2 separate regions of the Homo sapiens genome follow, and region 2 is linked to region 1. A link means that fine-mapping ties the variant in region 1 to the expression of a gene that starts in the linked region. Tissue or cell type: whole blood. Region 1 holds a variant in brackets; the other region holds the start of a gene. All regions are shown on one strand. Distances are between the middles of the regions.

Region 1 (2,653 bases):
GAGGTAACAAACATTGAAAAGTACACAAAACAGAGATGCACAACTACCCTACCACCTGGGCAAGAAACGGGCTGCCACCTGGCATCTAGAAGCAGCCCTGTGACCCCAACCGCTATACTACACCCTTCTTCACCTCCACTGCTAAGTTCATAATCCTTTAATCTATCATCCCCACGTGTTGAAGGCAGCTCCCTTCATAATTCTTACATTCAATTCCAAAATTCTGAAACTGTCTAGTAAACTTATGAAGGGTGAGCAGATTCCCTGGAGATCTGGAAGTGATTATTTGTTCCATTTATATAGGATTAAAGCTCTGATTTGGGGCAAATCTTGCTATTCAAGCAAGAGTCAGTATGTATGAATCGAGCTGGAAGTGATCTGTTCGCCCAGATAGACCAAGACTTTATCCTGAGAATGACCCAGTGCTGCAGCAGAGGGTCCTACCCTCCAGCTCGGCACAGGAGAGGGAAAAAAGTCAGTGTGCACAGAAGGAAAGAGAGCCAGAGGCAGAAGTCTGAGCAGGGAAATTAGCCATGAGGGACAGGAGAGAAGAGGAACTCCAAAGACTGCTTCTCATCACTAGTTAGGGTAGTGCTATCATGGATGGAAATGGCAAAGAAGGCAGAGGGAGGCAGTGATGGAACAACTTCAAACTTAGCCTAACAGAGGCCCAGGAACCTGCCTCACTGAGTCCTCAATGTGCCTTAGCGTGTTTTGCCAGCTGTCATAAAAACAGCCGGGTGGAGCTCACGACTCCCAGCCCAGGCTCTCTGCAGTCCCAGCATGTTGCAGATTTCAATGTGTACAGGAACCACCTAGGGAACTTGTTAAAGTGCAGATGCCCGTTAGGTAGCCTGGGTGAAGCCTGAGACTCTGCATTTTTTCTCTTTCTTTCTTTCTCTTACACGGGATCTCACTCTGTTGCCCAGACTGGAGTGCAGTGGCACAATCACTGCTCACTGCAGCCTTGACCTCTCAGGCTCAACACTCAATCTCCACCTCAGCCTCCCAAGTGGCTGGGACTACAGCTGCATGCCACCATGCACAGCTAATTTATTGATTATTTGTAGAAATTGGGTCTTGCTATGTTGCCCAGTCTGGTCTCCAACTCCTGGGCTTAAGCAGTCCTCTCGTCTGGATCTCCCAAAGTGCTGGGATTACAGGCATGAGCCACCACACCCAGCCAGTTCTGCATGTCTAACAAGCTCCCAGGTCATAGGGATGCTGCTAGCCCAAGTCCCACATGGTGATCTGCAAAGTGGTGCCAGGGACTTCTGGCTCTGCATCCTCTCCACAACCACCCAGCCCACAACAAACCCACAGCCAAGACTCTGGGGAAACCTTGTGCCCAATTAAGTGTCCTAGAGCCAGAGAGAGAAACTGCCCTGGAAAACAATTTTAAGTCCAACTCTGCTTGAAATTTGATACTTGCTAGAGGAGTTCTCATCACTGCTGGGAAAGCCAGTCTTGCAGCATTGCAGCTTGAATCAGCTTTGAGAAAAGAAAGCAACCCGAGTCCCAGCTCCAGGACTGAAATTCACCTCTCCAAACCCCTACCCGACCTCCAGGCTTTTCTGGCTGAATGTAGAAAGAGAAAACACCCAAACAGCCCTCCAGAGAAGAAAGTT[G/A]TGCAAAGATTTGCATATTTACCCTCCAAGTGCCCAGGCCCACAATGGGCATCTTGGCTTTTGTACTGAGCTCCACAAACGTGGCCATGGTTGGTGCGGAAATGATTCTGAGTGAGCAGGTAGAAGTCTCACGTCCTGCTGTGTCCAGAGTTGGTTCCTTCCAGAGGGTTCGTGGTCTCGCTGGCTTCAAGAATGAAGCCGTGGACCTTCACAGTGTGTGTTACAGCTGTTAAAGATGTTGTGTCTGGAGTTTGTTCCTTCAGATGTGTCTGGAGTTTCTCCCTTCTGGTGGGTTTGTGGTGTCGCTGACTTCAAGAATGAAGCCGCAGACTGTCGTGGTGATCGTTGTAGCTCTTAAAGGTGGTGTGGACCCAAAGAGTGAGCAGCAGCAAGATTTTTCGTCAAGAGGGTAAGAACAAAGTTTCCACGGTGTGGAAGGGTATCTGAGCGGTTCCCTGCTGCTGCTGACTGGGGTGGCCAGCTTTTATTCCATTATTTGCCCACATCCTGCAGATTGTTCCATTTTACAGAGTGCTGATTGGTGCATTTACAACCCTTTAGCTAGTTACAGAGTGCTGATTGCTGCGTTTTTACAGAGTGCTGATTGGTGCATTTACAATCCTTTAGCTAGACACAGAGCACTGATTGGTGCATTTACAATCCTCTAGCTAGACAGAAAAGTTCTCCAAGTCCCCACTTGACCCAGGAAGTCCAGCTGGCTTCACCTCTCAATCCCCCATCTAAACAGGACACCACAACTGCTGTTGGGAATTGGGTGATGACCTCTCTAGCCACTTACTGCTGGATAGGGGCGAAGAAGGGGCCCTGCACTTGTAGTGTCCTTCAGAAGGGAACTCTTTAGGCCAGTCAAAGGGCCAACGGGTTGGTCCAGGGGTCCTTGGTGGAAGTTGTTAGTTGAGTTCACTTGGGGTTCCATTTGTAAGACCATCTGTAGCTTGATGGCCTCGATCCTAGAGGAAACAAATTTGACAAGGAGGTTAAAAATACAGGGCCCAAAGGTGAGT
Region 2 (2,684 bases), 110 kb after region 1:
CAGCTTTAGACACAGTTATAACTTCATGCAATCAAGCTGTATACTCAATTATTATCAAACCAACAACAAAGCCTCTGATATTGAGTCCATGTCCCTAACAGACGACCCTTCTGTGTGTACCAACCTGGCCACTCAAGGTGTATCATTTTCACAAGAGATTAGCTCTTTGGATTTGGACCCAGGAGGTTCAATTGGCAGAGCAACCTCCAAGTCAAGAGGACTCTCATGGAGGAAGGAACTTGCTGTTTTACACAAAGCAAGTTCCCAGCTTTAGGCTCAAGTTCAAATTCTATTACTTGGGGACAAATGAATTTGCCCAATAGCAACAATTTTTACAAAAGTTACATGGAAAAATATCTGGGCTAGTCTGTTCTGTATAAATTTTTCCAGGAGGGAGCACTTTTAAAGAAAGCACCAAATGGAAAATCACCGGCATGGAGTTTAGAGAGACCTGGTGCTTGAGTCACTACCAGGCAGATGGAGTTCCCAATCTTGCATAATTAGGGGAAAGATCGGAGGGTGATGGAGCAGAAAGAGCAGTTGGGGTGAGGTAGAGTATCATGAAGAGAGGTTGTTGGAAAGAAACCAAAATTGTCTTCAAGGATCTTCAAGTGACTTTTCTTAGGCTATCTTGGAAAAATGTGTGTTTCTACCTGCCAATTAGGGTGATCAATTTACTATTTTGTACCTTCTAATTTGAAATACTGGAAGCTACAATATTAGAGTCAACTTTTTCTTCTGTGGTTTTCTGTCTGTTCACTTTTCTTCCTCTAGAGAGTTTTGATAAGTTACTGTACTGGAACTTACTGCTTTGATAGAGTCTCACTTTCCAAAGACTGATGAAATTTGTCTTACTGATTCTGAATGGACAGCCTTACTTTCCAAATTCTTCTGAGAGTTCTGGATCAAGCCCATCAAGGCTTTCTAACCTCAAGAACATCAAAGGATGCTGGCTTTTGGTGGAAGGCTTGCTGAACCACACCTAGTATGCACAGACACAGCTAACACCTAGAGTGGGGTGCAAAGAGAGATCTAGAAGGCTACAAAAAGTCTGGGCAAACCCATATTTTGTGAAGGTGCTTTGCAAAAGGATTGCAAGCCATTTTTCTGGCATGCACCTTTGTCTAAGAACAAAGTGCGGTAAACTATATGTGTAGTCAGTATGATTCACATAGATTAAGGACAAGGTATTCGTCAGATTCCCAAAGAGCATCAAACTGGGGTTGGACAACAAAGGCATTCTTCTGGGCTCTTAATGAAACCAAAACTTATTTCTAGTCTATGTATTTATGGGATGCCTGTTATTTTCGCTAAAGCATTCGCTTTCCCACCAGATACAGCAGCTGAGGAACTCCTTTCTGCCACGCGGGGCGCGGGCGAGCGTTGGGGGCGGAAAGAATCCGCTGCCACTAGGACCAGGCGGAAGAAGCATCCCCGCCGACCCTTGGGGAAGGCCGCCGCGGCACCCCCAGCGCAACCAATCAGAAGGCTCCTTCGCGCAGCGGCGCGCCAACCGCAGGCGCCCTTTCTGCCGACCTCACGGGCTATTTAAAGGTACGCGCCGCGGCCAAGGCCGCACCGTACTGGGCGGGGGTCTGGGGAGCGCAGCAGCCATGGCAAGCCGTCTCCTGCTCAACAACGGCGCCAAGATGCCCATCCTGGGGTTGGGTACCTGGAAGGTAGGTGCTCGTGGGGGCGCGGGCCCGGGGCTCGCCTCACACTCTCCGCGCGGCCTGTATTGGCGAGGGACCCCGAGTGACCCTGAGCAGCTCGCCCCGCGGACGCCCGGCGTGCTGGGAGCCACGCGCGGGCTTGCAGGGTCCCCAGCGGGCTGGGGTCGGCCTTGCAGAGACCGGGGGCCTTGGCTCCCCGGGTTGGCCCTGGGCGTCAGGGCAGCATCCTGCGAGTGGGGTTTGGGAGCAGCTCACGGGAGCCCCCGCCCTACCGCGGGCAACCCTTGATGGGCGGCCCACCAGTCCGCATTTTGGGTCCTAGCGGGCGCCCCAAGCGGCACAACGCGAGAGGGAGGCGGGGAAAGTGGGCTTCACAGACCGGTGGACCTCGGGCGCAGACAGGGACGTGGAGCCGTCGGCAAGGTGTGGGAGCGCAGACCCAGCCTCCTTTCCCTCGAGGCACCTGTAGCCCGGTTGCCTCACTTGTAAATAGTTGGTCTCAATCGTTTCGATTCTTGCCCTCCCTGAGGAATAAGCATCTCAAGCCGGTAGAGGGCAGAGAATTAGGTGGCGCGAGTTTGCCCGGACCCAGCTGTTAACAAGGCGCAGTGCGGAGCTCCTCGGCCAGGCGCCGCCTCGGGGTGCCCTGGGTCTGGAACTCGGGAGAAAAATCTGGGCACCCCGTAGCTAGTTGATAATTCAGGAGGCGCCAAGGTTAGCATTTTCCCTGTAAAACCTCAACACCACACAGCGTCCCCGAGAAGTGCCTAGCCGGATGAGAATGACAATAGGACATGAAACATCATAGGATATGAAAAATGATAATATGATATGAAAAACCAAAAATAATAGCCTGAGCCTGATTATCTGAAAATTGAGCAACAAAGGTGGTGGTATGGGAGCTGAGGCAAAACCTAGAATTTTTAACCTTCTAAGTATTGCATATTATATTCCACAGCCATAACCTGGGTTTCTCAGTTTCTGTTTTTGTTGTTTGCTTGTTTGTTTGTG

What was found. PIP is the estimated chance that this variant, and not a neighbour inherited with it, causes the effect.
Region 2: AKR1B1 starts here. The variant in region 1 is fine-mapped to the expression of AKR1B1 in whole blood (TOPMed, PIP above 0.99).

Annotation. Positions count from the first base shown.
Region 1 is chr7:134,564,544-134,567,196 of GRCh38, reverse strand. It overlaps AKR1B15 (aldo-keto reductase family 1 member B15), which reads right to left. Exons shown (of 12, transcript NM_001080538.3): 3 at 2,428-2,599. The coding sequence starts at 2,577. Among named protein-coding and RNA genes, the nearest start is that of AKR1B15, 17 kb to the right of the region's middle. The variant G/A (reference allele first, on the strand shown) is at 1,629.
Region 2 is chr7:134,457,992-134,460,675 of GRCh38, reverse strand. AKR1B1 (aldo-keto reductase family 1 member B) reads left to right here and starts at 1,576. Exons shown (of 10, transcript NM_001628.4): 1 at 1,576-1,679. The coding sequence starts at 1,614. RefSeq lists a silencer at 1,777-1,966.